Linked DNA regions of Homo sapiens. The protein of the gene in region 4 interacts with the protein of the main gene of each other region in a pairwise test. Each region holds a gene or a part of one and is shown on either strand. Other genes may lie near its edges. The genes, in order: SLC7A14, TMEM237, ADORA2A, BET1, MFF, TMCO5A and MAGEA6.

What was found.
Region 1: the proteins of BET1 (region 4) and SLC7A14 interact in binary tests that used the Homo sapiens proteins (3 or more experiments, as listed by UniProt).
Region 2: the proteins of BET1 (region 4) and TMEM237 interact in binary tests that used the Homo sapiens proteins (3 or more experiments, as listed by UniProt).
Region 3: the proteins of BET1 (region 4) and ADORA2A interact in binary tests that used the Homo sapiens proteins (3 or more experiments, as listed by UniProt).
Region 5: the proteins of BET1 (region 4) and MFF interact in binary tests that used the Homo sapiens proteins (3 or more experiments, as listed by UniProt).
Region 6: the proteins of BET1 (region 4) and TMCO5A interact in binary tests that used the Homo sapiens proteins (3 or more experiments, as listed by UniProt).
Region 7: the proteins of BET1 (region 4) and MAGEA6 interact in binary tests that used the Homo sapiens proteins (3 or more experiments, as listed by UniProt).

What each region holds. Positions count from the first base shown.
Region 1 is NC_000003.12:170,478,076-170,481,575, reverse strand, and holds part of SLC7A14 (solute carrier family 7 member 14), read left to right. Parts: intron 1-409; coding exon 410-1,287; intron 1,288-3,500. UniProt on the Homo sapiens protein: Imports 4-aminobutanoate (GABA) into lysosomes. May act as a GABA sensor that regulates mTORC2-dependent INS signaling and gluconeogenesis. The transport mechanism and substrate selectivity remain to be elucidated.
Region 2 is NC_000002.12:201,633,504-201,637,003, forward strand, and holds part of TMEM237 (transmembrane protein 237), read right to left. Parts: intron 3,383-3,500; coding exon 3,245-3,382; intron 1-3,244. UniProt on the Homo sapiens protein: Component of the transition zone in primary cilia. Required for ciliogenesis.
Region 3 is NC_000022.11:24,430,599-24,434,098, forward strand, and holds part of ADORA2A (adenosine receptor A2a), read left to right. Parts: intron 1-298; exon of another isoform or gene 299-964; intron 965-1,649; exon of another isoform or gene 1,650-1,836; intron 1,837-2,022; exon of another isoform or gene 2,023-2,128; intron 2,129-2,532; 5' UTR 2,533-2,806; coding exon 2,807-3,138; intron 3,139-3,500. UniProt on the Homo sapiens protein: Receptor for adenosine. The activity of this receptor is mediated by G proteins which activate adenylyl cyclase.
Region 4 is NC_000007.14:93,994,356-93,997,855, reverse strand, and holds part of BET1 (BET1 homolog), read left to right. Parts: intron 1-1,534; coding exon 1,535-1,591; intron 1,592-3,470; coding exon 3,471-3,500. UniProt on the Homo sapiens protein: Required for vesicular transport from the ER to the Golgi complex. Functions as a SNARE involved in the docking process of ER-derived vesicles with the cis-Golgi membrane.
Region 5 is NC_000002.12:227,345,751-227,349,250, forward strand, and holds part of MFF (mitochondrial fission factor), read left to right. Parts: intron 1-1,475; coding exon 1,476-1,634; intron 1,635-3,500. UniProt on the Homo sapiens protein: Plays a role in mitochondrial and peroxisomal fission. Promotes the recruitment and association of the fission mediator dynamin-related protein 1 (DNM1L) to the mitochondrial surface.
Region 6 is NC_000015.10:37,933,208-37,937,439, forward strand, and holds the start of TMCO5A (transmembrane and coiled-coil domain-containing protein 5A), read left to right. Parts: upstream 1-1,432; 5' UTR 1,433-1,487; intron 1,488-2,049; 5' UTR 2,050-2,098; coding exon of another isoform or gene 2,099-2,130; 5' UTR 2,131-2,141; intron 2,142-3,106; coding exon of another isoform or gene 3,107-3,116; coding exon 3,117-3,256; intron 3,257-3,639; coding exon 3,640-3,763; intron 3,764-4,138; coding exon 4,139-4,189; intron 4,190-4,232.
Region 7 is NC_000023.11:152,766,890-152,770,861, reverse strand, and holds the start of MAGEA6 (melanoma-associated antigen 6), read left to right. Parts: upstream 1-1,172; 5' UTR 1,173-1,208; intron 1,209-2,936; exon of another isoform or gene 2,937-3,000; 5' UTR 3,001-3,066; intron 3,067-3,146; 5' UTR 3,147-3,211; coding exon 3,212-3,972. UniProt on the Homo sapiens protein: Activator of ubiquitin ligase activity of RING-type zinc finger-containing E3 ubiquitin-protein ligases that acts as a repressor of autophagy. May enhance ubiquitin ligase activity of TRIM28 and stimulate p53/TP53 ubiquitination by TRIM28.

The DNA.
Region 1 (3,500 bases), on a different chromosome or scaffold from region 4:
ACAAAAATTAGCCGGGTGTAGTGGTGCATGCCTGTAATCCCAGCTACTCGGGAGGCTGAGGCAGGAGAATCACTTGAACCCAGGAGGTGGAGGTTGCAGTGAGCTGAGATCACGCCACTGCACTCCAGCCTGGGGGACAGAGTAAGCAGAGTGAGACACCATCTCACCAAAAAAAAAAAAAAAAAAGAAATCAAAGATTTAAAGTGAATTCTTTTTTAATTATATACCAAATCCTGGGGTAGGAATAGCAGCTGGATTTAAAGTAGTGAATGCAGAAGTAAATTGGTGGAGCAGGACCAGGAGGAGTTAATCACACCAGCCTATTGATAGTTCTAGCTCCCTATGTTGGCTGCACTGGAATCGGTCACTGTAGCTCACCATTAACCCTCTGCTTGCCCGGCCCCTCCAGGTTCCTGGCTCACGTCAGCTCCTACACAGAGACACCAGTGGTGGCCTGCATCGTGTCGGGGTTCCTGGCAGCGCTCCTCGCACTGTTGGTCAGCTTGAGAGACCTGATAGAGATGATGTCTATCGGCACGCTCCTGGCCTACACCTTGGTCTCTGTCTGTGTCTTGCTCCTTCGATACCAACCTGAGAGTGACATTGATGGTTTTGTCAAGTTCTTGTCTGAGGAGCACACCAAGAAGAAGGAGGGCATTCTGGCTGACTGTGAGAAGGAAGCTTGTTCTCCTGTGAGTGAGGGGGATGAGTTTTCTGGCCCAGCCACCAACACATGTGGGGCCAAGAACTTACCATCCTTGGGAGACAATGAGATGCTCATAGGGAAATCAGACAAGTCAACCTACAACGTCAACCACCCCAATTACGGCACCGTGGACATGACCACAGGCATAGAAGCTGATGAATCCGAAAATATTTATCTCATCAAGTTAAAGAAGCTGATTGGGCCTCATTATTACACCATGAGAATCCGGCTGGGCCTTCCAGGCAAAATGGACCGGCCCACAGCAGCGACGGGGCACACGGTGACCATCTGCGTGCTCCTGCTCTTCATCCTCATGTTCATCTTCTGCTCCTTCATCATCTTTGGTTCTGACTACATCTCAGAGCAGAGCTGGTGGGCCATCCTTCTGGTTGTTCTGATGGTGCTGCTGATCAGCACCCTGGTGTTTGTGATCCTGCAGCAGCCAGAGAACCCCAAGAAGCTGCCCTACATGGCCCCTTGCCTCCCCTTTGTGCCTGCCTTTGCCATGCTGGTGAACATCTATCTCATGCTAAAGCTCTCCACCATCACATGGATCCGGTTTGCGGTCTGGTGCTTTGTGGGTAAGCAACTTCCTTTGGAGCCTTAAGAGTTCCCTTTTAAGGTCTTAAGCATGCTTATCCCAAAATTACCTCCTAGCTGGACTAGGCAACTCCGTTCCCAGAGAAATCTGGCTGGTTCTATGGACCCTTGTGTTCCGCCTAAGAGTCAATAAAGCCAGTTGTCCCCTTTCTGCCTGTAATGTTCTTAGTCATTGGTTCTGGAAAAATGATGTTGATTAATCCATCGCTTTACTGAATTACTGAAAGTTCTTTCTATATCAGGATAATTAATACCAGAAAAAGTCCACTTAAAGTGAATCCACATTTTTAAGGTGACAAAAATAGCATAGTATAATTGGGGTCAGGGCATTTGGATGGAATTTTATCATAGAAACTAAGAATTGTAAAATGAAAAACTATCTTAGATTTCACAAAATTAAATTAAAATAGCAATTATGCTCTCATTTTTAAATGAACAAGGTGTGAATTAAGTGTGGATTTTTTGGCATAATTTTTCTGACAAAATTGAATCATGGCATCATTTAACATCTCTCACTTCATACTGACTTTTGTAAAATATTCAAAAGTTTTTCATATTTCCCAAGGTCCTTTCTTCATTCATTGACATTCCAATCATTCACTTGGGAAGTACCCATCATGCCACCATCCTTACTGATTTTCTCTCTCCTGCTGGTAATAACTAATATGACTCTGTTAGGTCCTCAATTGTCTACAATTTTGGGTGTGAATTCAAATTGTTCTCTAAACTCACTTTCACGGACTTCAAGAAGTCCTGTACCTTCTCTAAGATTTCTAATTTTACTTTGTGATCCATTTCTATTGTATTTGCAGTACTTGCTTATCATCTAGGACAATCTCTGATGTTCATGAGGTGGCTGGGGATTGATGCTAGTAAGAACTTGAGAAGTGTAATGGAAGACTCATTTTAAAGTTCCTTAGTCACTATTTGTATGTCCTCTGAACAACTTGGTAACCCTGGGGTCTCTGATAACAAATTCTTAGCTAAAGAGGATCTTTAGAAGCTCTGGGGAATAGAAGAGTAAACCCTGCCTAAAGGAGAGGCAAGACAAACACACGAGTCACTTAGCCCAAGAGAGGCCAAAGAGACTCTTTTTGTTGTTGTTGTTGTTGTTGTTATTTGTTTGTTTTGTTTTGTTTGTTGTTGTTGAGATGGAGTCTTGCTGTGTCGCCCAGGCTGGAGTGCAGTGGCTTGATCATGGCCCACTGCAACCTCCGCCAACCAGGTTCAAGCAATTCTCCTGCCTCAGCCTCCTGAGTAGCTGATATTACAGGTGAGTGCCACCATGCCCTGCTAATTTTTGTGTTTTTAGTAGAGATAGGGTTTCACCATGTTGGCCAGGCTGTTCTCGAACTCTCAACCTCATGATCTGCCCACCTCAGCCTCCCAAAGTGCTGGGATTACAGGCATGAGCCACTGTGCCCAGCCCACAGAGACTCTTAGTGATGAGTGGCAGTGCATCCACTCCTAGAGATCAGGAATACACTTGTTCAACATGTGTCCTCCGTGTCTGGAGCAGGGTGCCCGCAGTATGTGCTCAAAAATACTTCTTAAATTATTATAAAGTACTCTTCAAAGGGGAAAAAGGAAAACTTCCAGTCAGAATTGCCAGAAAAAACTTGGAGGGGGTAGAATACAAAGTGGCCCTATAAGTTAAGATATAGATAGAAAGAAGTGGGGGAAAAAGTAGCAACCAATGGAAAGGGCATATGTCTTCCCCAGAGGCCTGACTCCTTGCTTCTGAAGGCTGCTCTATGGCTTCCTGTAAGCATTTTGTCCCAATTTTTCACTATTCTAAGTCCCCCTGGTTAGACTTCAGGAGGATTTCTTGAGAGGACCCCACTGACTCATCAAGATTTTAACCAATTTTTATAACACATTTACAATCTCTTGGCTGGGCATAGTGGCTCACGTCTATAATCCCAGCACTTTGGGAGGCCGAGGAGGGCAGATCACCTGAGTTTAGGAGTTCGAGACTAGCCTGGCCTACATGGCAAAACCCCATCTCTATAAAAAATGCAAAAATTAGCCAGGCGTGGTGGCAAGTGCCTGTAATCCCAGCTACTTGGGAGGATGAGACAGGAAAATTGCTTGAACCCAGGAAATGGAGGTTGCAGTGAGCTGAGATCACACCACTGCACTCTAGCCTGGGAGACAGAGCAAGACTCCATTTCAAAAAATTTTTTTAAAAAAA
Region 2 (3,500 bases), on a different chromosome or scaffold from region 4:
AAGAGAAAAGAACTTCAAGAATTTTAATTGGGCAAAAATGTTTTCACTATCTTACAAATTTTTAATTTTTTAAAAATGTTATACTTCTAAACTCTCAATGTAAAAATTGAAATTGTAATGCCAAACAATATGGAAAAAAATTAAGTAACCCAATACCCAGGCTGTGCTGAAGATTCCCAAGATTATCTCCTGGTTCGCTGACTTTCTAGAAGGGCTCACAGGACTTGGAAATCATCACACTCACAATTATGGTTTACTACAGCAAATGGATATAAAGCAAAATCAGCAAAAGGAAAAAGTACATGGACCAAGTCCAGAGGAAACCAAGTACAAGCTTCCAAGAGTCCTCTATCAGTGGAGTCAAATAGGATGTACTAACATTACTGGAGAGTAATGAGTTGTGACAACACATGTGACACATGTTGTACAAAAGAAGCTCATCAGAGACAGTGCCCAAGGTTAGGGGCTAGTCACATAAGCCTAGCACATACCAAAATTCTGGATGCCCGGAAGGGAAACAGATGTTCAGCAAAAATCACTATGTGTGCACAAATGCACCGTGAGTCACCTTATAATTTAGGGAAAGTTTTCTATCAGTGTAGGGAGCTGTTTATCATCCAAGTTCCCAGATGCCAGCTAACGGCCAATCTTATCAGCAGGCTTTTCCAAGGATAGCAGTCTCAGGTCTGCTATATTAACTCTTTTCTGCACACAGGGTAGGTATTAAGTTTAAATGAGTCAGTGAAGCCTTCTTCTAATCCACTAGCTACTCTTCCTACCTGGAAATACTAGCTCCCTGGAATACCTTCAAGACCTTACAATTCTATTGTAATAAAATACTTACAGCCTCGACTGGAAATATAATGCAAGCAGTAGAGCCTACCATTGGTCATCCTGAACAAAATAAATAAAAACACAATTTTTAAATCCAGAAACTTAGAAAGGTGAACCTGCCAGGCTTGGTGTACTTTGGAATGGCAATGACAGGTCCTTTTTGATTCAAAACTTAGTTGGGTCCTGAATTTTCTAAAAAAGTCATTTCTGTAAACACACTTTTCACAAATTATAAAACTAGGTATTGGTATCCATCTTGATTTTTAAACTTGTATCTTAACTAAATTACTAAAAGGGCACTTTTAATGAAACTACATTTACTGCCACTAATGAAATAAACTGTAGAGTAGTTAAAGCTAGTCTGAGCACCATTTCTGTCTCTTTTCCTTCTTCTGCCATCATCCGCCCCTTCGTTCTCATAGACCCTCAGTGCCCCCAGGCACTGTGGCATCCCACTTCAACTTGCCTTCCAAAATTATGCTCCATTCTCCTGACTTTTCTAGTTCCTGCCCTTCTACTCCTATAATTCTTCCATCCAATCAAGACACGCCGTTTTCTAGAAGGACAAGTAATTAGGAAAATTATAATAAATTATTAATAAGGGCTGATGTTAATAGGAGAGCACTAATCTCCCCATCTTTGTTCCTTCCCTGAGTTTTGCTCCAATACAACTCTTTGTCATTTTTCTAATTATTATAAAAGTCATAATGCTCAAAATATAAAAAATTAGTAAAATAAATGAAGGAAGAAAATTTTAAAAATCATACTTCCTCCTTCTAAAACTTCTACCACTGTAACACTGCTATATTCTTCCATTCTTTTTACTATGTAGATGTATGTACATATTTACGTTCTGGGTTGAACTGTGCTCCAAAAAGAGATATGTTCAAGTCCTAACTCATAATACCTGTGAGTGTAACCTTATTTGGAAACAAGAGTCTTTGCAGATGAAATCAAGTTAAGATGAGGTCATGCTAGATTGGAATGGGCCCTAAATCCAACAACTGATATCCTTATAAGAGGGAAATGTGGACACAGACACACAAGGAAAAATGTGAAGATGGAAGCAGAGATTGGCATTATGCCACCACAAGTCAAACAATGCCAAGGACTGTCAACAACCATAAGAAGCTAGAAGAAATGGCCAGGCGCGGTGGCTCACACCTGTAATCCCAGCACTTTGGGAGGCCGAGGTGGGCGGATCACCTGAGGTCAGGAGTTCAAGACAAGCCTGGCCAACATGGCAAAACCCTGTCTCTACTAAAAAATACAAAATTAGCCGAGCATCATGGCAAATGCCTGTAATCCCAGCTACTCAGGAGGCCGAGGCAGGAGAATCGCTTGTACCCGGGAGGCAGAAGTTCCAGTGAGCTGAGATCGCACCATTGCACTCCAGCCTGGGCTATAAGAGTGAAACTCCATCTTAAAAAAAAAAAAAAAGAGGCTCGAAGAAACAAGGAAGGATTCTTTTCTAGAGACTTCAGAGGGAGCATAGTCCTGCAGACAACTTGATTTTGGACTTCTCACCTAAGAACTATGAAAAAATAAACTGTTGTTTGAAGTCACACAGTTTGTGGTAATTTGTTATGGCAACCCTAAGAAATTAACATAGTATATTTTACAAAAATGGGATCCTCCAATACATACTATTTTATAACCTTTGTTCTTTGATTTAATAATACACAACTGATGATTATCTGTGTCACCCTAACAATCCTTTTAATGGGTACCTGGTTCCTATTTATGGATGAAGTATGATTTATTTAGCCAGTATCACACCGTTAAATATCTGGGTCATTACCAATTTCTACTCTTATAAATAACGCTGCAGTTAACATCCTTTAATTACTGCAGCTATTGAATTTACTACTATTCCCAGAAATCCAGACAGGCTGTATCTATGCTCCTATGAGCAAAGCATGAGTGCACCCATTTCCCATCAATATTGGATTTTATAATTTGAAAAAAGCATTGCCAATTTGATAGGCCAAAAAATGGTATAGTATTTTATTTACCTTGTGAACTGCCTGGGACATAGAAAGACTAAACAAATGTTAGCTGTTGTTTCACTATATTATTGTTAGTACAGAATCTACCATTTCCCCACTAATCTGAAATGTCCATTTCATCATTTACTAGATTTTTCTATGCACTGAGATCTGAACTTTCTGTTTAGTCCTGTATTTGTTGCCCTCCTCTCATAATCTATACATATATGATCAAAAGAGACCTGTAAAGTATTCTTGGCTTAAGCCATTGGAGTTATTCTAGTGGTAAATATTTTAAACATAAAAGCAAGAAACCACCTGTGGGATATGGATAGGGGGAAAGAAATGAAAGCAGAGAGGTTTTTATCATGTCATCAAAATCACAAGTGCTATCACAACTTAACCTTGGTTTCTTCACATACCAAGAGGTAGCCTTGTCTTTTTCTGTCTTCTTTGAACAGGAGCCTCTGGGTGCTCTTTGAGTTCTTTAGTTGATGGCTCATTGCCCTCAGAGGGCCTTCGACCAGCAGTCTGAGCAAGGCCTTCCAAAGAAGCACTTGCTATAGAAAAACAGAGTAGAAAAAAATGAGATTACTTGAGCAAAGATCACTGAATCTTAAAAAGATGGAGGAAAAGGTAACTAGAATGTTTCCTATAGAATAACCCCATCTCTTTCAG
Region 3 (3,500 bases), on a different chromosome or scaffold from region 4:
GCCCGTGAGGCAGGCGCCGATGATTTGACCCCACCAGCAGGGCTCTGGGTGATGGGACTGGGGAGTCCTCCTTCACTTTGGCAGACGTGTTATGTTCCACCTTGTTTGCCCCCAGCAAGGCCCTTGAATCTGGAGCGTGGTCTGGGGCTGCATCAGCCTTCTAGCCTGGGATGGTCAGATTGGCAGAAGGCTGTGGCATCCTTCAATGCAGATGCCCTAGAGAGGGCCGTGGTGGGAGGCAGGATCCCTGGGTAGAGGCGGCTCCTCAGTGGCCCACTGGGCCTCACTGGACAGTCGCCTGTTGCTGCTGCTGGTGGTGCTGGGCCTGGGAGTCCACCTTGGAGCCACAGGCCAGGCACCTGGGTGGGAGGCAGCCCGGGGCCAGCACCAGCTCCACTTGTACCTGTTGGGCAGGGGCTATCGTGAGTCAGGTGGGCCCTGGTGAGTACTGCTCAGGGAGAGAGGCCAAGAGCATCAGGGATAACTGTGTTCCTTGAGTGTGGCCAGGGATGGTGCCAGGAGAGCTGGTCTGGTGCATCCCTGCCAACGACACACTTTGTGAATGGCTGCCTGGCAAGTGCTCCATGGAAAGCAGGGGCTTGGGAGGACTCGGCCCTCTCCAGCTGCTGCAGGCCCTCCGTTGCTGCAGGGTTTCTGGCTCTGCTCTCTCCTTCCTCCTCCTGCTTCTGTGTCAATGCTCCATTCCCAGGCTCCTAGTAGGGGCAAAAGGGCCTGCTGGGTGCAGGAGAACCTCCAGTCCCAGGTATGGCTGCAGCCCGTGCCAATCCTGTTCCAGCCACTTGAGGTGCCGACAGCATTGGAGTTGGAGGGAAAGTTGGGGTCTGTGTGTTTGAGCTCTGTCACATGGACAATGGGGTAGAGGGGAGCCTGGCCCTTTGAACAGGGCTCAGGACCAGGAGTGACTTCCTCTCCAGGTTGCCAGTCCTGCTCCATCCCTCATGTCCTGGAAGAGAGAGAGAGACGAGGTGGCTGCCCGAGTCCACGTGAAAGGCAGCCTCTGACCTCTTGTCCCCAGGCAGGTGGTGGCGGCTGGCAACACACTCATAGGGCCCCATGAGGGTTCAGGATTGGAGGGGGTAGATTTGGGGGCCTCTTAGCTCTCAAAGAGGGGCAATTTAACGGGCAGAGGTCCATTTGGATCCAGACCATTCACAGGCTCGAAGGGGACACTGGGAGTTGGGGCTGGGCTCAGGCCTGCTGGGGAACCAAAACTTCTGCTTCTGAGGGGTGTCAGTAATTCCATTTTGACTCTGGGGGAGCCATTTTAAATCTGTTTATTTCCTTCTCATAGAATCATGGGTGAGAGCTGGCATGGCCCCTAGAGGTCATTTGGGGTCCAGCTGCCTCACCGTATCAATGAGGAAACTGAGGCCCAGAAAAGAAAAGCATTTTTGCCCAGAGTCCCTCAGTGAGTCCTGGTTCCGTACCTGCTTTCTGCCAGGGACCAAACTCCCGTTAGTCATTCCTGGTGTCAGCCAGGCAGAGGAGCAGGTGGGGGAGAGGGCGTGGGAGGAGGGAGGTGAGGCAGCTCCCTCCGAGTGGAAGCTCACAGTCAGCTGCAGCGCCGCCCCTGCCCTGACTGCAGCTGACTGGCAGGGGCACCTGGAGGCAGCGGGTTCGGGCGCAGTATGAGAGGGCTTACCCTCTGCGGCAGTGGGAGACAGGACCAGGCAGCTCCCCACATCCTTCCACATCCGAGCTCCAGGGGTCTCTGGCTTGTCCTTTCACAGGGCGGCTGGTGTCCCTTAGGTGGGTGCTGGTAGTTCCTGGGAGAGTTGACGGGATGGAGCAGGCCAGGGGGGCTGAGAAGTTGGCCTGGCGAGAGAAGGTGGGTGGGACTGGGAGAGCCTGGGCAGGGAGGGGCCTTTCTGGGAGGGAGTGTCATGGGGCTGGCCGAGATCCAGGACCCAGGAGACTGGCCAAGCTGCCACAGGAGGCCTGAGAGGCTGAGCATGGGGGGGCCAACACTGACAGACTTTAACAAGTTTCTGGCTCCCCCAGGAAAAAAACAGACCACATCTGATCCTTGGCCCTGAGTCCAGAGTGGGAGGCACCGTGACAACAATGCGCAGAGCAGGGAATGCAGGGAGCCATGGATAGTGCTGGGGTGAGCTGGAGTCCTGGCAGGGGCCCAGCTAGGGCAGTACTCATTCTGCAGAGCCTGGGAGAAGGGGCTGCCTCCTTGGGAGGGGTTTGTGTGGGAGTCTCAGCGGGAATTCTATTGGACCAGGGGAACCAGCCTTGCTCAGTGACTTCTCTGGGTGTCCTCCTCTAAAGTGAGGGTCAAATTCCCACCTCTCTCGCCTCCTGGCTATGACCACAGCAGACCAGGCAGGGCATGGGGCTAGGCGGGGTCAGGGGCCATCCTCAGGCTGACACCTGGCCTGTGGGTAGGGTGGGATCTGAAACTATAGGGTCTTCAGGGGGCCAAGTGTGGGGTAAGGGGTGGCACTTTCCGCAGGGCTCGCCCTCTGCAGATGGTTCAGCTTCTCATCGGCTGTCCCTTTGCAGGTGCCTCAGGAACCCTGAAGCTGGGCTGAGCCATGATGCTGCTGCCAGAACCCCTGCAGAGGGCCTGGTTTCAGGAGACTCAGAGTCCTCTGTGAAAAAGCCCTTGGAGAGCGCCCCAGCAGGGCTGCACTTGGCTCCTGTGAGGAAGGGGCTCAGGGGTCTGGGCCCCTCCGCCTGGGCCGGGCTGGGAGCCAGGCGGGCGGCTGGGCTGCAGCAATGGACCGTGAGCTGGCCCAGCCCGCGTCCGTGCTGAGCCTGCCTGTCGTCTGTGGCCATGCCCATCATGGGCTCCTCGGTGTACATCACGGTGGAGCTGGCCATTGCTGTGCTGGCCATCCTGGGCAATGTGCTGGTGTGCTGGGCCGTGTGGCTCAACAGCAACCTGCAGAACGTCACCAACTACTTTGTGGTGTCACTGGCGGCGGCCGACATCGCAGTGGGTGTGCTCGCCATCCCCTTTGCCATCACCATCAGCACCGGGTTCTGCGCTGCCTGCCACGGCTGCCTCTTCATTGCCTGCTTCGTCCTGGTCCTCACGCAGAGCTCCATCTTCAGTCTCCTGGCCATCGCCATTGACCGCTACATTGCCATCCGCATCCCGCTCCGGTGAGCAGGGCCGGGGTTACATCTGTGCAAAGGCTGTTGGTGCCCAGGCTTTGGTCTGTGCCCGGAGCCAGGGTGAGCCTGGGATCAGGGCCTGGTCTGCAGTGTCAGCATGGTGAGCTGGCGACGGGGCCCCAGGCTCAGCAGGGGCTCCCCAGGGCCAGCACGTGGCCAGCAGTCATGCCGAACTGACTGACCCCTATGGGCGCAGGGCAGCCTGGCCCTCCCAGGCGGCCTGGGTTCCCCTAGGCTGCCTGAGGCCAACTGTGCTCTGCTTTTTGGCAGATGAGTGTGGCCAGGGTCTGGCATTGGGCTTAGCAGGGAGCTGTGGTCCCAGTGACCCACGTGCTGCCAGCGGGTGTGTC
Region 4 (3,500 bases):
ACCAGAATGCAGGTTTTCTATTGTACTTACTTTATATTCTATATAGCACTTAGCATAATTCCTTATCAATGGTGTTGAGTAAATTTGTATTGAACCAAAGAATTACACGAAGATGATTTTAATAATATATGTGATTGATACTGCATTATAATGAACATGACGTTCACTTATAAAGCATTCAGTAGAAGCCCATGTTGATAAAACTTAATTGGTATTTCAATATAGTCTTTGGAAAATCGAATTACATTCAGTCTGGAGACCTTTAGATTTTGAAACAGGATTGTTTTCAAAGTCATATTAAACTAAAGTTGATTTATGAACTAAGTAATATTGTATAATGTTAATTTTAAAAATACAACACTTGGAAGGACTTAAGAATTAAATGCCTTTAAAAACCCCCCCAATGTAGATAATTTAGATTACTTGTTAGAAGAAAGTTGTGATGTCCTGGAAATATTTTTCCTTGGCATGAATGACAGTGATAGAAGTTGAGTAATGTGGGCAGTCTAGCTTTATAGTTACTTTATTATCTCTGAGTTGTTAAATCTGGGAGGAAAGCTCATGTTCTGATCTATAGAATTCTAGTATGGTTTTGTATCAGTATTATCCCATGTGCTTTCACACAGATGAAGAACAATATTTGCAGTGATTTACCAAGATTTTCAGTAGATGATTCTATTTATTTAAATATCTTGGAAGTGAAGCCTTTGATGAATCTGTCCTATAAAGTATTAGATAGATTTTGGTTTGAATAGTTGTCATAATTAGCTATAGTATTGTATTTTGTAAGCTATGGCTCTTTTCTTCAGAGCTTCAGGAAGTAAGTAACACTAATATTTATTTTTTTCAATTTATTATCATATTTTAAAGCAAAAACCTTTAAACTAAGGAAAAATCAGTTTAGACATATTTAAAGTAATGTAACATTTCATTAGGAAAATATTAAATACTTCTGTCTAGATTTGAATTGGTTGTATGGGTACTTCTAGATCTTTCAAAATGTAATAAGGTTGGGTACTAGGCTTAATTCTTGGTTGACGAAATAATCCGTACAACAAATCCATGTGACATGAGTTTAACTGTATAACAAACCTTCACCTGTACCCCCAAACCTAAAATAAGTTAAAATATATATATATAATTTATAAAATATAATAAATAAAATGTAAGAAGGAAATATACAGATATTTGTAGGAATTTGTAGCTTTTGTAGGAATATAATAAAGATATAAAAGCATACAAGGTTAAGAGAATCAGAGAGAAGTAGTACATACCAAATTAAAAGATGGAATTGAATATTAAGATGAAATTAAAATAAAGAGGAAAGAAGAAATGTCCATAATTGGGAGGAGTAGAAATTCCAAATTTATTTTTTATTGATCTTGGTAGAAAAAGTATCAGAAAAAGAGAGTTTATGTGTCTAGAAGACCGTTTCATTTCAGAAAATGTGTATGCTTAGAATGACATTATTTTTACTTTATAACACTTGAATACTTTTATGTGAGTAATCCTGTGTATACCTTCTTCTTTATAGCTTTCCATTGAAATAGGCCATGAAGTTAAAACCCAGAATAAATTATTAGCTGAAATGGTAAGTGGTTATGATTTTAACTTTAAGAAATTTGATCTAATATTCGCAAATAATAGAATTTCAACTTTTATTCATTTTGAAATACAGAGATCGTAAGTCCTTGATTCCCGTCCATTTGTATCTAATGTGTTTGGAATAACTATAAGGTTTATTTTGCCATGCTTTTGCATTTTTCATCTCGTCTTACGCATGTAAGTGGGAGGAACAAGTGGAAGCCAATATATCTTTAATCCTGTTTTTAGAATGATTGTTAAAAACAAGACAAATGACTATTTTGAGTAGTCTTAGAAGTCTCAATAGTAGAGACTACTAGTAATTTATTAACCAAGCAATCAAAAGGCACTTGATATCCAACCAACTAAATGTCGTTCACTTAATGGATACTTACTCTTTTGCTTGATTTCCTAAGGATCACTTATGAAAAAAGTGCTCATACATTTGAACAGCCCAGAGCCTTTTCTCTCTAACAACATATACCTTTTCTTGTTAGAGTCCCCTTCCATTTGTTAACGTTTATCTTGAATGTCAAGCTTCTCTGAACCTTCTCTGGTTCCATGTGCTTTTAAAATTGTGCTATTCAAAAATGAATTTGGCATCAAAAGCAATGTTCTTGCTAAGCTTGTGCGCTATAATAAGCTAGGGACCTCTTTAAAAATGTATATGCCTGATTCTGTCTTTAAATATACTGATTTAGAATTTCGTGAGGAGGGATCTAGATGTAAATATTTTGAAAAAAGCATCTCTGGTGATTCTGATGCATAACCATGAAAAAGCATCTCCGGTGATTCTGATGCATAACCATGGTGAAGATCCATAGATCTAAAGTATATGAGCCACATAGACACTGAGCTATACAAAGGATATTTATTATTATGCCAGGGCTTTTACATCTCAGGATATTATAATTTCTATGAAAGTATGTGTAATATTTCTAGTCCCTACCTAAGCCTCTCTCATCTTTAGGATTTTCCAGCTATGTTTTAATACGTTAGTTTTTCCCCATCCATATTTATAGTCCTTATCACATTTTACTACCTCTATATGATATTCTCTTAACTTAATAGACTCTACTTCAAAGTCAGCTGTCTAAACAAAAGGATATTAAAAGTAAAGGTCCAAGGCCTAGCATGGTAGCTCACGCCTATACTCCCAACATTTTGGGAGGATGAGGTGGGCGGATTACCTGAGGTCAGTAGTTCAAGACCACCCTGGCCAACATGGTGAAACCCCATCTCTACTAAAAATACAAAAAAATTAGCTGGGCGTGGTGGCGTGCGCCTGTAGTCCCAGCTACTTGGGAGGCTGAGGCAGGAGAATCACTTGAACCTGGGAGGCAGAGATTGCAGTGAGCTGAGATTGCACCACTGCACTCCAGCCTGGGCAACGAGCGAGACTCCGTCTCTAAATAAATAAATAAGTAAATAAAAGTACATTTAACTGCTAACCGTATTACATTTTGGATGAAATCCTCTACTTGGGTAGCAGTCAACCATTTGACCTTGGAGAGCAATGGCACAACAAAAAGTGGGGAAAAAAATCTGTGTGATAATGCACAAAGTACTTACATTTATTGTTAATTTTTTTTATCCACATAATTGGAATAACACCTAAATAGTTTTGAGTTGTTGAATTACTCTGTGGAGCTGAAAGAAGTGTTTATTGGACAATGAAAGAGCTTTTTATTCGCTGAGAGTATTACTGTATTTTGCATGGAGAAATCAGGCTGATTATCCAAGGTTATCAACAGGCTCCTGAATTGATTAAACACAAAACTGTCATTACAAATGTACTATGGTAACAGTTATTCAATTACTTGGATATGCATATGTAGACTCTTAGAATCTAACTGTGATATTTTATTTGCCTTTATCTCTGATAGGATTCACAATTTGATTCCACAACTGGATTT
Region 5 (3,500 bases), on a different chromosome or scaffold from region 4:
CATGGATCAGTAGATAATGTTGGCTTATATGTATTCCCAGAGATTGCCAGTCTCTGGACGGACATTTAAGGTCACTGGTCATGAGACTGCATCTGAAAATTTGAGTTTATCTTGACACCAAATTTGACCTAAATCCTATAGTGAATCAGGCTTGATAGATAGTTGCTTTATACGTTAAGATTTGGCTTAGATCTTTTAAGTAATCTTTGAAAAACATGGTTTTCATATTATGGTACTTCTGTCTTTGGATCACCAAGCCATTCAAAGTTATTCATAAAGCTGTGGAGGAGATTTTGTTTTTTAATTTTCTGGGACTCTGGGAATAATATCAGATGACTATAACTATCCTGTCAAAAATTATCCCACTTATTTTGTAGTTTCCAAACAAATACATGCTGTTAGAAAAGATTACACAGTCAAAATAAGAGATTTTCTTTTTTCAATTGTTTACCATCTGCTTTGTTTTTATTCTTTCAGATGTAATACACATTGGATGACATTTAGCCTGATGTTAGTTTTGCCTTGACGTTGAGAATGTTGAGCCCTCATTCCACTGTCGTAGTCTGTATGTCAGTTAAATACCTCACAATAGATAATCATACTGTAATGTTAAACAGCTCCCTGAAAATACTGACACAGATCTTAAGAGTTTAGGTTAGAACCATAAGAATTGGTTCATTCAGCTTTCAGAAAGCACTGGCAGGGGAGTCAAATGAAATTGTGAATCTCAGCCCACACATGAAAGAACGATTAAGATTATTGTCACTAAGAAGCCCAGAAATGGTTATCAGCCATTGATAATTTAAGAAGTGTCCTTGCCTTCTTTTGCTGTATTCACAGATTTGGGAATATTTTTATGCTTTAGTCATTTAACTAGAGAACATATGCTTACTATAATTAAACAATCAAAATGCTTTGTTACCATTTTCTAAGACTAATTCATCCTTAAATCAGTGTCATTTATTCGTCATAAACTTCAACTTCATTGGCTTTACGAAGTGTTTGAAATGGTGTTTTTATGGAATCACACTTTTGATTCATGTGTTTAAACTTTGACATCTGTATGTGAGAATTCCCTGTCCTACTCTTCTAATCATCCATAAGTCGACAGCAGTGTTGTTTCTTAGAAGTTGGTTTATTGAATTGGAATATAAACACGAAGTAAAGAATGCTGCTTCTCCATGGGAGGGGTTGAACACATTCATTGCTGTAGTTCTCTTCCCTCTCTACAGTTCTTTCATATTCAGTTTATTTATTTTGATGTTTAGGGTTACAAAGTTATAAGTGCTGCCTTGTAGCTAGTTTTTGGAAACAATTCAAAATATTTATTCTTTGACTGTTTTCTTGTGGGGAGAGTGAAGGGTGGGAAAGGGGCAAGAACACTAAGAAAATTAAGATAAAGACTGCTCAGCTGAAGTTTTATAAAAATCTGACTTGAGTGTTTTTCTCTTCATTTGCTGTGCTTGTGTAAACAGTGTGACACCATCGCCACAACAGGCTCGGGTCTGTCCTCCCCATATGTTACCTGAAGATGGAGCTAATCTTTCCTCTGCTCGTGGCATTTTGTCGCTTATCCAGTCTTCTACTCGTAGGGCATACCAGCAGATCTTGGATGTGCTGGATGAAAATCGCAGGTGATTGGCCATCCGTGACTCTTGACAGCTTTATTGCATATTTTTTGGCCTCTTGTTTAGTGGACTGTGGTGTCTTTCTTTTCTGTTTTTACCTTCTAGCCTCTTTCTAAGATGCAATGATTTGAAACAGCTTGCTTTACTTTCTTTTAATTTGAAATTATTGTCCAAAATTCACATTTCACAAGATTACATTAGCTTTCCTTCTGTCAGGGAGAGTATACATAGAAAGTGTAGTGATTTTTTTCAAAGGCTTTTCTAGCCTACTCTAAGTACTTGATTCCACTTAGGGATATGCCAAGGGGCCCCGTCCCATTGGATTGAGTGTTAGACTGAAGTTTACTAGTCCTCGTTAGTCTTTTGATTTAATCATTTATGCTGCTGATATGATTGGATTAATAAAGCAAATCTGAGGAGGTGATGTCAGCGCAGCTGCCAGGACACTTTTTTCCTTTCCTCTCAGCTACGGATTTCTAGGCTTGTTTTGAAAATTCCAGGTGCTATCATCTTTTTGATAATACTGATATTTTTCAGTGTTGATAATTTATCTCACTTTTGAACATCTCCAGGTAAAATCATCAGTAGTATACTTAGACTTATTCATACAAATAATTTTTTTGCAGTTATCTCAAGTACTTTTTGTCCTTGCTTTATTACTACATAATGTTTTAAAGGAAATTCAGGGAGCTTTTTTGGCATAGTGTGGGAAAGATAGAGTCAATTTCATTTCAACTCTGAACATTTATCTAGTGGCTTCTGGTAGTCAGGGTTTGAATTTTCATGATTATTTAATTGTTACTTTTTGCATTTTGAAGAATTTCACAATAAATTAAGCTATCCCTTCTAATAAATCCTGTTTCTTACCTTAGGAACGAATATGACTTCTGACTTGCACTGGACAAACTTTTTCTTGTTGAGTGCTTGTAGTCCTCACACAGGCCCTGGGTATGTCACCATACTTCGTAAGCACCTGTCCATGCTACTTATCATTGTTGAATCCAGGGCCTTTCTGAGCCTTCCCAGAGTTGACCTAGTGCTATGCATTTGGGCCCAAGGACTGAAAGCTGCACTAAGAAGAGCTTAAAAAGAAAGCTCATGGCATGAGGGTGTGGGGAGGGGAATTATATATACATGTATATGTATAGATCTGTTTTGTTTGTTTTTCCCCAAGGGTTTAGACTCCCTTTTATGCTTTTTGAAGCTTCAAAGCCATTCTTGGACTATTGGGAAGCTGTAAGAAGCAGCAAGGTTCAGAACAAAAAGCATGGATTCAGGGAGTCAGTTAGAATTAACCCGGATCCACCCCACTACATAGCTGCATGATGGCCTTGAACAAATTGCTTAGCTTCTTTTGGCCTCACTTTTCTCATCTGTTGAGAAATAGAGAGGAAGGGTAATAATATCTAGCTTTGTGAATTCTTGTGAGGATCTTCTCCCCTCCCCCACCTTTAATTATAATATAGGGATAATGGCCTCCAATTCTTTATTTAGTATGGTAGGAGATCTTTCAAACGATATTGCATATAAAGTAGCTGGCACTTAAGAGCTAATATTTACAAGGGCCTGTTTTCTCTTCCCTCCTTAAAACAGATTTATTGTCCATCAGCTAACTTGTTTAACTTTTTAATTACAATAAGTCCTTAGTGGAGACCAGATTATTAGGTGCGAGTATATCATATCAAATGCTATTACATTTAAAATATCTGAATGAGAGAGATATTTCCAAATCTTGTATAAAAAGTAATAATAGCTAGATGGCAGAGTCACAGTACATTAAAATTATATGTCCCAAAAAGTAAAAAAAGAAAAAAAATTATTTGTCCCAATTCCCCCTCACCAGCATATACACAGTTCATTGCAATAATGTGG
Region 6 (4,232 bases), on a different chromosome or scaffold from region 4:
TCTTTCCTAAGATGGTGGCAGGTACAAGGAAGAGCTAGGTACCCAGGAAGCATCACAGGAAAAGCTTTGGGTTTTCATGCCTTCCCTTCATGCTCCTAGATCTGCTGGACTCTGTGTCCATCTCAGCACAACTGGAGGGCTTCTCTTGTCCACCAAGCTTCTTACCACATCTACACCCCACTTAACGGGTCTGAGAATGCTCAGTCGCTTCTTCTGCGCCACCCTAATTATACTTGCAACAACCTCCTCACTCTTACCTCCTTCACCTGTTTATGTTTCCTCATGGCAGTGTTACCAAGCAAAAGAGTGTCACTGCCCAATGTGCTGGAAGCCAATACTATGACACAAGGTTTGTGAGAAAAAAAAGGCTTTTTACTGTAGGTCTACTAACAAGGACACAGGAATCCAACTCAAATCTGTCTCTCTGTGCTGGCTCTCAGGCAGTACTTTTATTAGAAAAGGTTTAGGGAGTGGATTCTGGAATTAGCAAATGACTGGTAGAAGAAAAGGGGAGGTCTGGAAAGTCCTCAGGCATGCACGATTATCTCTTCATGCCTCCTTATGGGTCCCATGTGCAAATTCAGGGGAAATTAGTATAAAACATGCAGTGGAAATTCAAGCTGTGACATCAGTAAGCTTGTTCTGCACAGACTCCAGTTGGCCTTATTGGTTCCAACCAATTTCAGCTAGGTTTTTTGTTTTGAAATCTCTCAAATAGAGGGAGTTTCAGCATTTCAGCAAGTTGTTTATTTTCTTATCTGCTATTCTGCAAGCTCAAGAATTTGTTAGTCACTGGTTTCTTTAACTCTTTGGGGTAAAATTTCAGCAGTCTCCTCTTTTATCATATCAAGTAAAAATAATTTTATTTATTTTATTGATTGTGTTACCAGTCCCCCCTACACACACGCGCGCGCGCGCACACACACACACACACACACACACACACACACATCTTAGAATATAAACTTCATGAGGTCAAGGGCTTTTGGCTGCTTTGTTCATTCTTTCCCTCCAGTGCTTAGAACAGAGCCTAGAAGATACACATCGTGTTCATTCAGTGTTTCACTGTTTGTTGAATGAATGAGTAGTTAGTTGGCTACATGATGAAATTAGACTGCTGGCCAAAAGACCTAGACTTTCCATTTTAGTCACACTGAGGCAGGAAGAGAGCTTTATCTGCCAGAGAAATAAAAGATAGAGGTTGCCCCTTCAAACAGCCCAGAAATCAAATCCATTGAACCTACTGCTATCCAGGGAAGACTTGGCCATGAAATCCACACACTTATCTAGGCTCTGGACTCTACACAAATGATGAGAAACCATTGCCACCCACCCCACTATGACATGTTGCCCCGCCCATCCTATGTCATGACCTCTCAGAATGTTCTGAGATTCTATTGGATAGTTCCAGTGGAGAAAGATTAGACTCCTCAGAAGCTAATTGACTAGGGAAGGATCAGGAAGACAAGACACATCAAAAAGGGGAGGTAGAGTTTGTAGAAGAAATAAAGGGGAAAAAAAGAAACTAAGGGGAAGGGAGAGACAAATGATTTACATATACTTGGTTTTCTGAGCCCTCTTTAATACTAAAGATCTTAATATCTGGAAATTCTGGCATAAGCAAAGATAGAGAGCAAAGATTACTTTTCAGGGATATTGTAAACCTACATCCATGCCCATGGGGCTTTATGGAAAGCAACTGGCCTAGAGCAAAAAGAGACTTATTGATTATCTCTATTTCTTTATATTGTCTTGTATAAACTTCCACAGGGTTTTATGTTGATAAACCATCTCTGACTATATCTATTAATAGGACGTATATTCCAGCATTATCTCTGTATCCTGACTGTATCTTTAATAGGGTATAATCAGAACACGGGCAGAAGAATCAAAAGGCTGAGTTTTGTCATGGTTAAAATGTGGGGATTAGAGGGAGAAAATGAGTTAACTTAATTTGATTTCTACTTTTTGGGACTCTTCCCTAGTTACTGTATTCATAAATGAACCCATTTCTCCAATTCATTAGATACATCTCTGTTGGCATTTTAGGGAATCTACAATGGAAGGACACAAGAAAGATCAGCTGGATTAAGTAGTCATGATTATGCAAAGCCATATCCAGAGACCAAGGTGTAAAGCAGGTTCGCTATTGACCCCTTGCCTCATCTTCCAGCCTCCTTCTCCCCTTCTACTCCTGTTATGCAACCACCTCCGCACCCTACCCCAAGCATGCCATACCTTCCTGAAGTGATTACTGTAAATCCCCCATCCAAGCAAGCCCTTCCAAGATAGGACTTAACTTTCCAATATTATCCTTCATTCCTATCTAAAACAAAAGCCTCTGTGCCTCACTGTGCTAATAGTGGTTAATCAACTGAAACACAAACCAATGAATTAATTTACATTAGTAGAAAAAGAAAAATATATCAAGAGCCTCCCATGTACCCTTCCCAAAATACTCTAGAGTTACCATTATTTCATTTAAATTTACTTCAAAAAAGATATTTGCATTTTTGAAAGCTATGCCTAGAGCCTATGTGGGTGTGCTCAATGGAATTACTCTCATGGTAAAAATTTCAAACTTTGTAGCAGGCAAGTGAGGGAGAGGTGTTGAGGTGGGAGAAGGAAGGGAAAGATTGAAGCCCTATCATGCTGGTGGAAACCCCTTGTGGCTCTGCAGAAAGCCAGGCCCAACCAGAAGTGATATGCCAGGTGCTTAGATAAAAGTGTTCAATAAATGTGTATTGTATGAGCAGGTTTTGTGAATAGTTTATCTAAGAAAAGATTGCCAAGAGAAACATTTCTCCCCAGCGCAAGGGGTTATTTAAGGAAGCAAAGCTTCTCAAGAAACCAGAGTGAAGGTGCACTGTTAGATTGAGCACTTTGGAGGAGAAAGCCTGGGAAAGACCCTTGCTGACTGAGCTGCGAATTATCGAAACAGTTGTAGAGCATGATCAAGAAATGTAATTTTTCAAGAATGAAAATGGTATGCCCCCAGAGAGAGTAAGGTTAATAAACTAGATGTGTTCTAAATACCCTTTTTGGCCTGATGATTATTGATCTTGAGATAACTGGCCCTTGTTCATTTTGGGGGCTGAGTCTATAGGTCGGAGAAAATGGAAATCTCAAGATTGGCTCAGTCAAAAAGAAACATTATCAGTTTGAACATGGACCTTGAAAGGGATACGCAGAGAATAGATGAAGCAAATCAGAAACTTCTTCTCAAAATCCAAGAGAGGGAAGATAAGATTCAGAGGTGAGTATTAAGGTTTCATGAGGGAAGTTCCCAATCCAAAGAAGGGGTGGAGGACCAAAACCAAAACTGAATTTTCCTGCTTGTTCTAGAGACTTCTACCTTGTGTGGCAAAAAGTTAATTTTTCATTCTTTGACATTTCTCTTGAACACTGAAGCATAGCAAGTTTCAAATAGATTCCTAAAAGATGGAGTTGAGAGAACACTGGGGTGTTTGGCTTAGGAATCAGGCAGGTCTTCCTGCTTTATGGATTCAGTAAGGAAGAGTTTTCAGCTTGAGATTCATGTACACTGTCCCTGAAGTTCCCTTATATCTGAAATCTGTGTTTTATCAGTTCTGAAACTGCCAAGCATGGGTCCTCATGGCATGTGCTTGTGTTGTCCAGGCTGGAAAGTGAGATCATTCAGACGCGGGGCCTGGTGGAAGATGAAGAGTGGGAGAAGGAGAACCGCACCACGATGGAAAGGGAAAGAGCCTTGCAGGAGCTGGAGGAAGAAACAGCCAGACTTGTAAGCAAGAAGTTGGGAAGAGCCATTTAATAGGTTGCATTCCTCATTCCATCCTTCATCAATTATCAGATAAGCTTGTCTCTCCTTTTTATACATGAACAGTAGCCATCTCAAAAGTCATGATAAAATTTGTCCATGCGTGGAAGGGGATGTGTCTGGCTTCTTGGGCAATGTTTAATCATTGGGAAGCCCTGCAGATGGGCATCTATATCCCTGTATTTCACCTGTGGTTTGATTTCAATATACACATGACATTATGCAAATAAGGTCAAGTTACTGCAGGAAAATATAGCTGGGGTGAAATGGACAGCAATCAACTGAATAAGAACAGATGGAGTACAGAGGCAGATTTACACTGTTATTTCTCTCTCACAGGAAAGGAAGAATAAGACGTTGGTCCACAGTATAACAGAACTTCAACAAAAGGTGAGGTAGGGTACTTGTGTTCTCCAGTGCCCCCACAACAGCC
Region 7 (3,972 bases), on a different chromosome or scaffold from region 4:
CATTACAACAAATTTGGGCTGCTGTGCTCTGCTTCCCAAATCAAACCTGGAAAATTACAGAATGGAAACAGTAAATAAAAAACCAGTATCAGCAACAAAACAGGGAAAGCCCAGGGTGAGACTCAAGGCTGTGTTGAGCTGGTACTTGTGTTTGACACTTGCAGTGTTGGTTGGAGGGGGTTAGCAGCAGGGATGTTGGGGAGGTTTGTAGCCGGCCTACACGGTAGATGACAGAATGGGTAGAATAAAAGTTTGAAATTTTCCACTTCACTTCTTTGCACAATCTGAGGCAGCCTCTGAAAACACGATGCCAAGAGCCCTAGGTAATAGCAGGACACCAGGAAAATTTGGTTGGTTAAGGCAGTATGACTCCAGAGTTCTGCTAATAACAACCTGAAACCACCATAGTGGGAGAGGAATTACATTTTTTAAAAAAAAAAATTCTTTCAACAGAACACAAAGACTGAAATAGGAGGTCACTACAACCGCGGGAGCTGCCGCCCCGCCCTGCAGGGAGCACCTGGCCTGGGACCCGCAGGCATTCTCTACAAGGGGTGCAGCTGTGCAAATGCTCACAGGTGACAGAAACAGAGCATCTCCTGCCCATCACTTCATCCAACAGCCAGAGGTGACGAAAACGACCCTCCTGAGTGAGGACTGAGGGTCCACACCGCCCCCCCACCCCACACACCATAGAGGGACCACAGAATCCAGCTCAGCCCCTCTTGTCAGCCCTGGTAAACGCAGGCAGTGATGTCACCCAGACCACACCCCTTCCCCCAATGCCACTTCAGGGGGACTCAGAGTCAGAGACTTGGTCTGAGGGGAGCAGAAGCAATCTGCAGAGGATGGCGGTCCAGGCTCAGCCAGGCATCAACTTCAGGACCCTGAGGGATGACCGAAGGCCCCGCCCACCCACCCCCAACTCCCCCGACCCCACCAGGATCTACAGCCTCAGGACCCCCGTCCCAATCCTTACCCCTTGCCCCATCACCATCTTCATGCTTACCTCCACCCCCATCCGATCCCCATCCAGGCAGAATCCAGTTCCACCCCTGCCCGGAACCCAGGGTAGTACCGTTGCCAGGATGTGACGCCACTGACTTGCGCATTGGAGGTCAGAAGACCGCGAGATTCTCGCCCTGAGCAACGAGCGACGGCCTGACGTCGGCGGAGGGAAGCCGGCCCAGGCTCGGTGAGGAGGCAAGGTAAGACGCTGAGGGAGGACTGAGGCGGGCCTCACCTCAGACAGAGGGCCTCAAATAATCCAGTGCTGCCTCTGCTGCCGGGCCTGGGCCACCCCGCAGGGGAAGACTTCCAGGCTGGGTCGCCACTACCTCACCCCGCCGACCCCCGCCGCTTTAGCCACGGGGAACTCTGGGGACAGAGCTTAATGTGGCCAGGGCAGGGCTGGTTAGAAGAGGTCAGGGCCCACGCTGTGGCAGGAATCAAGGTCAGGACCCCGAGAGGGAACTGAGGGCAGCCTAACCACCACCCTCACCACCATTCCCGTCCCCCAACACCAACCCCACCCCCATCCCCCATTCCCCATTCCCATCCCCACCCCCACCCCTATCCTGGCAGAATCCGGGCTTTGCCCCTGGTATCAAGTCACGGAAGCTCCGGGAATGGCGGCCAGGCACGTGAGTCCTGAGGTTCACATCTACGGCTAAGGGAGGGAAGGGGTTCGGTATCGCGAGTATGGCCGTTGGGAGGCAGCGAAAGGGCCCAGGCCCTCCTGGAAGACAGTGGAGTCCTGAGGGGACCCAGCATGCCAGGACAGGGGGCCCACTGTACCCCTGTCTCAAACCGAGGCACCTTTTCATTCGGCTACGGGAATCCTAGGGATGCAGACCCACTTCAGCAGGGGGTTGGGGCCCAGCCCTGCGAGGAGTCATGGGGAGGAAGAAGAGGGAGGACTGAGGGGACCTTGGAGTCCAGATCAGTGGCAACCTTGGGCTGGGGGATGCTGGGCACAGTGGCCAAATGTGCTCTGTGCTCATTGCGCCTTCAGGGTGACCAGAGAGTTGAGGGCTGTGGTCTGAAGAGTGGGACTTCAGGTCAGCAGAGGGAGGAATCCCAGGATCTGCAGGGCCCAAGGTGTACCCCCAAGGGGCCCCTATGTGGTGGACAGATGCAGTGGTCCTAGGATCTGCCAAGCATCCAGGTGAAGAGACTGAGGGAGGATTGAGGGTACCCCTGGGACAGAATGCGGACTGGGGGCCCCATAAAAATCTGCCCTGCTCCTGCTGTTACCTCAGAGAGCCTGGGCAGGGCTGTCAGCTGAGGTCCCTCCATTATCCTAGGATCACTGATGTCAGGGAAGGGGAAGCCTTGGTCTGAGGGGACTGCACTCAGGGCAGTAGAGGGAGGCTCTCAGACCCTACTAGGAGTGGAGGTGAGGACCAAGCAGTCTCCTCACCCAGGGTACATGGACTTCAATAAATTTGGACATCTCTCGTTGTCCTTTCCGGGAGGACCTGGGAATGTATGGCCAGATGTGGGTCCCCTCATGTTTTTCTGTACCATATCAGGTATGTGAGTTCTTGACATGAGAGATTCTCAGGCCAGCAGAAGGGAGGGATTAGGTCCTATAAGGAGAAAGGTGAGGGCCCTGAGTGAGCACAGAGGGGATCCTCCACCCCAGTAGAGTGGGGACCTCACAGAGTCTGGCCAACCCTCCTGACAGTTCTGGGAATCCGTGGCTGCGTTTGCTGTCTGCACATTGGGGGCCCGTGGATTCCTCTCCCAGGAATCAGGAGCTCCAGGAACAAGGCAGTGAGGACTTGGTCTGAGGCAGTGTCCTCAGGTCACAGAGTAGAGGGGGCTCAGATAGTGCCAACGGTGAAGGTTTGCCTTGGATTCAAACCAAGGGCCCCACCTGCCCCAGAACACATGGACTCCAGAGCGCCTGGCCTCACCCTCAATACTTTCAGTCCTGCAGCCTCAGCATGTGCTGGCCGGATGTACCCTGAGGTGCCCTCTCACTTCCTCCTTCAGGTTCTGAGGGGACAGGCTGACGTGGAGGAACAGAGGCCCCCGGAGGAGCACTGAAGGAGAAGATCTGTAAGTAAGCCTTTGTTAGAGCCTCCAAGGTTCCATTCAGTACTCAGCTGAGGTCTCTCACATGCTCCCTCTCTCCCCAGGCCAGTGGGTCTCCATTGCCCAGCTCCTGCCCACACTCCCGCCTGTTGCCCTGACCAGAGTCATCATGCCTCTTGAGCAGAGGAGTCAGCACTGCAAGCCTGAAGAAGGCCTTGAGGCCCGAGGAGAGGCCCTGGGCCTGGTGGGTGCGCAGGCTCCTGCTACTGAGGAGCAGGAGGCTGCCTCCTCCTCTTCTACTCTAGTTGAAGTCACCCTGGGGGAGGTGCCTGCTGCCGAGTCACCAGATCCTCCCCAGAGTCCTCAGGGAGCCTCCAGCCTCCCCACTACCATGAACTACCCTCTCTGGAGCCAATCCTATGAGGACTCCAGCAACCAAGAAGAGGAGGGGCCAAGCACCTTCCCTGACCTGGAGTCTGAGTTCCAAGCAGCACTCAGTAGGAAGGTGGCCAAGTTGGTTCATTTTCTGCTCCTCAAGTATCGAGCCAGGGAGCCGGTCACAAAGGCAGAAATGCTGGGGAGTGTCGTCGGAAATTGGCAGTACTTCTTTCCTGTGATCTTCAGCAAAGCTTCCGATTCCTTGCAGCTGGTCTTTGGCATCGAGCTGATGGAAGTGGACCCCATCGGCCACGTGTACATCTTTGCCACCTGCCTGGGCCTCTCCTACGATGGCCTGCTGGGTGACAATCAGATCATGCCCAAGACAGGCTTCCTGATAATCATCCTGGCCATAATCGCAAAAGAGGGCGACTGTGCCCCTGAGGAGAAAATCTGGGAGGAGCTGAGTGTGTTAGAGGTGTTTGAGGGGAGGGAAGACAGTATCTTCGGGGATCCCAAGAAGCTGCTCACCCAATATTTCGTGCAGGAAAA